Linked DNA regions of Homo sapiens: region 1 is linked to region 2. Evidence: fine-mapped expression QTL. A gene starts in region 2. The other region holds a variant in brackets. All regions are shown on one strand. Distances are between the middles of the regions.

Region 1 (2,898 bases), 43 kb before region 2:
TTGCCTGAGCTCAGGAGTTCGAGACCAGCCTGGGCAACACGGTGAAACCCCATCTCTACTAAAATACAGAAAATTAGCCGGGTGTGGCGGCGTGCACCTCTAGTCCCAGCTACTGGGGAGGCTGAGGCAGGAGAATTGCTTGCACCCGGGAGGTGGAGGTTGCAGTGAGCTGAGATCGCACCACTGCACTCCAGCCTGGGTGACAGAGCGATACTCTGTCTCAAAAAATAATAATAATAATAATTAGCCGGGTGTGGTGGTGAGCACCTGTAATCCCAGCTACTTGGGAGGTTAAGGCAGGAGAATCGCTTGAACCTGGGAGGCAGAGGTTGCAGTGAGCTGAGATTGTGACATTGTCCTCAAGCCTGGGTGACAGAGCGAGACTTTGTCTCAAAAAAAAAAAAAAAAAAGATAGTTAACATTCATCCTGGGCAACACAGCAAGACCCTGTCTCTACAAAAAATTAAAAAACAAAACAAAAAAATTTAGGTAGTCCCAGGTACTCAGGAGACTTAGGTGGGAGGATGGATTGAGCCCAGGAGTTCAAGGCTGCAGTGAGCTATGATCACACCCCTGCACTCCAGCCTGGGTTACAGAGTGAGACCTTGTCTCTAAAAAAATAAAACAAATTAAAAAAAGGAAAAAAAAACAGTGTTAACATGGATGCTGAGGCAGAGTGAGTCAAGGATGAAGAGTCTGCAAAAACATGCAAGTGCGTAAAAATGGCATGTGTGCAAAACTAGAGCCCAGAGAGATGCATACTGAAAATGTGGATATGCGGAGAGTGTTGACTGTGGGAAGGCCCCGAGATAGCACAGAAAGTAGCAGGAGTGCATGGATAAAGGGAGGCGAGGTGCAAAGGGGCCAGGCTGCCAAGATAGCGATTGCGCAGGGGGTGGGGTGGGCACACGCTTGCTCATGGAGGGGGCAGGTGGAGCCGGGGGCAGGGCTGCCTCCAGCCTGCACGCTGGCTGGCTCGTAGCCCCAGAATGGCGCTGGCCCGCGGCGCTGCGCTGGCAGGGAGCAGGCGGGAGGCCCGAGGAAGGGAGCCTGCTGCCCGCCCACCCGCCTGCACAGGCTGTGTAAGGGGGCTGGGCACGCATATCCCGCCAACAACTGCAGCTCCCACCAGCCTGCCAGGCCAGGCTCCTGGACACTCCCTTCCCGCCTTCCTCCTCCCACCTCCCTCCTCCCTCCACAGTCCTCCAGCTTCGGATCCACAGACGGAATCAGGAGCAGAGTAAGTATGGGCCCCAAAAGGGAGGGGATGGTGACCCCCCACTCCCCACTGGGATATCCTGGAATACAGCTGCCAGATACCCCTCATTGGTTCCTGCAGCTCAGTCTCCATCCCCTGGGACAGACCAAAATCCCATCCTGTCCTTTCCCAAGGATCCAGGGTCCAGGTCTCTGGCCACCCCACCCCTAGGAGCTCTGCTTCCTGCTTCTCCACCCTAATGAGATGCTTGAACTTGGATCCTGCTTCTTTGGAGAAGACAGGCATCCTGGTCTCCACATTTGGTATACATGAGAAGCTCTGGATATAGCTTTTTTTTTTTTTTTTTTTTTTGAGATGGAATCTTGCTCTGTCGCCAGGCTGGAGTGTCATGGCTCAATCTAAGCTCACTGAAACCTCTACCTCCCAGGTTCAAGCGATTCTCCTGCCTCAGCCTCCTGAGTAGCTGAGATTACAGGCACGTGCCACCACGCCTGGCTAATTTTTGTATTGTTAGTAGAGACGG[A/G]GTTTCACCATGTTGGCCGGGCTGGTCTTGAACTCCTGACCTCAAGTGATCCGCCCGCCTCAGTCTCCCAAACTGCTGGGATTACAGGCGTGAGCCACCGCGGCCGGCCTGGATGTAGCTTTCAGCCTCTCCCTCTCCCCAAGAACCAGGAGTGCAGGCCCCACCCCTGTCCTAGCAAAACCTCAGACATCTGTGATCCTCAGCTACCACACCCCTTTGTGATAGAAAATTCCTGCTTTACTTGAGAATGTAGCAACCGGAGCCCCCCCACACCTCCGCCCTCAGATCCAGTTCAGGCGCCCATCTCCCAGCAATCAAGTCTTGCTCCCTGGCCTGCCCTCCGGCACCCTGGAGCCCCGCTTTCCACACAGCCTTGCTCCTCCCGGCCTGGCTTGCTGCCTGCAGGCCTCTCAGGGTCCTTCACCGTCTCTCCAGTCTCGGATCCGGACCCGTGGATCTCAGCCTCAGACCCTCCTCTGGCCCCGGCCTTGCCCTCGGGCACGGCCCCTTTCCTCTTCAGCCCTGGGGTCCTGCTCCCCGAGCCAGAATATTGTCCTCCTTGGAGGTCCCCAAAGAAGGTGAGTCTCGACTGGAGGGAGAGGTCCCTCTGAGAGCCTAGTCTTTGTCTCCCTTGTTGCTGCTGCCATTTTTGCTCCTCTTCGGTGGCACCGAGCTGACCCCATACTTTGCATGTAGTCCTGGGGCCGGAAGGTGGGAGCCGCGCTGAAGCCTAAAACATCACACCTGCTCTTTCAGGAGTCTCCCAAGATCTCCCAACGTTGGAGGGAGTCCAAGCCCAGGGGGAACTTGACATACCACCAGTACATGCCCCCAGAGCCGAGACAGGGATCCAGGGCGGACCCCCAAGCCGAGGGGTCCGCCCTGGGTCCTCCTGGGCCATCTCTGTGGGAAGGGACAGACTCGCAGCAGCCACATCCTAGGTATGACACCCACTTCTGTTCTCCCGGGACCCAGAAATTCAGGTCCCAGCATCCTCCTCCCTCAAACCTCGAGTCCAAGATTAGGGGATTGGGGCCCCCAACCCTCTCTTCTCCCAGGGTTTAAGAGTCCAGGATCCCAGCCCCTCCCTTCGCCCTTCAGACCCGAGTCTGAACGCCTAGTTCCTCCTCCCCCATGCACAGAAATCTAGCCCCAT
Region 2 (2,898 bases):
AGCTTGAGACTTCGCCCAGGTGGGGAGGAAGACGCAGCGAGACCTAAGCCTTCTTCCTCAGTTTTGTGTGGCAGCAAAGCTGGGTTCTGTGCTGGCGGTGGGCTCAGCACAAATGCCCCTCCGCATCACCCCACTTACATCTGCAATCCCCGGGCCCCCGTGGCCGCCCCCCCCACTTGCTTTGCTCCAAGGCACTTGGCACCTTCCAACAACCTAGAGCACAGAAGGACCTGCGCTGCTGGGGTCTCCCCCTCCCTCTCTGGACACTGAGCCTGATGGGGCAGGGGTCTGTGTTCCCAGCGCGAACCCCCGGCAAAGTCCCATACAGGGGGAGCTCAGGCAGGGTCAGCGGAGGGACCTGCGCCTGAATCCCGAAGTTCCACTCTGACTCACACAGCCTGGGCCCCCAGCTCTGACATGCCCCCTCTGATGGGGGGCGTCTCAGCCCCATTCCATCCTCCTGCAGCTGATGCACCTCCCAGCTTTCGGAGTGACTCCCTTCTTTCAAATCCGATGTCCCTGTCCTGCTCCTGCCAAATCTGGCCCCCTCCAACGTGGTACCTAAGGGTCCAGAGTCGAGGGTCGCCTTTGCTGTGCCCTCGCACCCCCTGGGGGCGGGCCTGGGGCAGTGGGTCCCAAGCCTGTCAGGATTGGGCCCACGCTACACCACGATAAACGCTGGGGCCACCCAGGGCAGCAGGTGCCGCGCCCCAACTCCATGAGGCCCTTGCTTTTCTCAGCGGGAAGTGACAGAAAACATTATTTTTCTAGTCAACCCATTCGGAGATGGAATAGAACAGACAGCAACATTCGCATGAAAATGTCACGATGAAAGCACTGAGGACTCGCAGGACACCAGCGGCACTGGGGAGGTGCTTTTGAGCTTGGTCCCCCGCACCCCGGGGGTCCCCGCCTTCTCCCTCTGCCGCATGAGAAACACTGGGGCCCAGGTGTTCTCAGCTCATTTGTCGCCTTCCCCACCATCTTAGAAAGCGACTGAGGTCTTTTGAATTCCAGGGGCTGGTCTGAACCTTCCAAGAGCACAGATTTTACTGACCTTAAGGCTCGGTGAACCCACAGCTGACAAAAGGTTCCAGAGAGGAGGAGGAGGGGCTGGCTTGGGGTCACGCAGCCAGAGGCAGGGGCTGAGCAAAGTTTCCAACAGCGATTGTCTCCCAAAGGTCAGCCCCTGCCCGATCGCGATGGCGGCCACCACAAGGCGGGGCTGAGCCAGTGGGCAGGGGTGGAGTGGGATGGAGCGGGACCCCCGACTGACAGCCTCCCGTCCTACCTGCGGTGAGCCTCCTAGGCCAGGCTGCTCGGGGCTGTCCTGCTGCTGGACCGCCGGGGGCAACGGCACTCACGTCCCACACCGTTGCGGGTGGCCTGGCTGGCAGGGGTCCCTGTGGGGATAGCGTGGCTGCGGTTGGTGAGGGATTGGGGTGGGAGGGGGGTGGCGGTGTTAGATTCTGCGGGCTCTGCTCTGAGCCCCCGCCCAGCCCAGAAACCCCACTAGCCTGGGGCCTGAGAACAGCCACGCCACTCCCTCCTGAGAGCCCACCGCGCCACAGCTTGGAGGAAGAGCCTGCGGGGAACTGGCTGCAGGACGCTCTCTTCTTGAGTGCAGGTTTGGCCAATGTCGGGGCCTCAGGGCTCGGGTTGGGGGGTGCATGCCAAGAGCCAGGGAAAGGAAGCCTGGGTCCCAGATGGACCCCAGGCCGCCCAGGCAGGCCTCCTATGAGTCTGCTGGGAGCATGGCTGGACTCTTTCTTAAAGAGGGGTATGGGCTCTCTGTGGGCCACGACTGGTTTCTGGATCCCCCAGGAACACTAGGGAACTCACAGCCTGGTTCCTCAAGGTGCTAAGGGCCAGAGGGTGCCACCCCCTGAACTATCCAGCAACTATCCAGAGAGAAAGGGGACATGGGGGACTGGCCCTTAACAGGATGCTGCTGAGGGCCAGGCAGGCGGCTGCCACCTGAGTGGGTGCAAAATGGCGCCAGGCTCCTTGGGAGGGCGGAGGGCGAGGCCTGTCATCTGGGCCAGGGGAGGCAGCGTCTGCATGTGGCCAACAGCAGTGGGGACATGGGCAGTGAGGCCAGGCTGGGGCAGGTGTGGCCCACCTCAACCGCCAGGGTGCCCCAGAGATGCCCAGCCCAGGGACATTCCTGGGCGCAGATTCAGAGCCAAGGGCCTGGAAAGGCTCCGAGGCCCCCAGTCCACAGTGAGCTCCTCACCAGAGGCTGCTGGCCCTGGAAGGGGAAAGTGGGGGCATTTCAGAGTCCAGTCCTTCCCAGCTCCTGCCATTCCTAGGGTCTGGGCTTCTGCCCCCACGGGCGCCCTGGCATCTGGCACCCCACCCTGTCCCAGCTCCTGCCTTCCTGCCTCTCTCCTCCTCATTACCCACCGCCCCCAACATCTGTTCCCCCATCTGCTCTGGGGAACTCTGGATGGGTGGAGAATGTGGGGACTCTGGTCTCCAGGCCCTGAGGCCCAGAATAGAGGGCAGGGTTGAGGTGAGCAGAAAGTCCCAGAACGCTAACTTCCGGTCCCCACACCCTGAGTTCTGAAGGGAACCCAGGTGTCTGCTTCCCCTGACCCCATGGGGATCCCACTGTCCCGCTCCCAAGCCCCAGAGCCACCCAGGTTCCAGCTCCCAGCATCCCTTTCCTCAGCTCAGCTCTCTGGGCTTTGCACTCGGGTGGGAAAGGGTTAAGGGTGGGGCGCTGGGGGTGGGTGGGCGGGTGGCAGGGAGGCTGGGTTGTTTGGTGATAATCCCCTTCCGTGCCCAGGGTGTGGAGAACAAGGTTAGGGCCCCATGTGGGAAAGGCAATGGCTCTGATCCCTGCAGGCCTGGGCCTCGGTCTCTCACTTCTGATCCCCCGCCAGACACCCCTAG

What was found.
Region 1: its variant is fine-mapped to the expression of NTN5 in whole blood (TOPMed, PIP above 0.99). The same link has a PIP of 0.9 or more in substantia nigra.

Annotation. Positions count from the first base shown.
Region 1 is chr19:48,715,047-48,717,944 of GRCh38, reverse strand. MAMSTR (MEF2 activating motif and SAP domain containing transcriptional regulator) reads left to right here. Exons shown (of 10, transcript NM_001130915.2): 3 at 1,202-1,240; 4 at 2,178-2,320; 5 at 2,499-2,683. Among named protein-coding and RNA genes, the nearest start is that of MAMSTR, 3.2 kb to the left of the region's middle. The variant A/G (reference allele first, on the strand shown) is at 1,743.
Region 2 is chr19:48,671,661-48,674,558 of GRCh38, reverse strand. NTN5 (netrin 5) reads left to right here and starts at 1,542. Exons shown (of 7, transcript NM_145807.4): 1 at 1,542-1,627. It overlaps LOC105372431 (a long non-coding RNA gene), which reads left to right. Exons shown (of 3, transcript XR_936016.3): 3 at 772-1,413. It also overlaps the pseudogene SEC1P.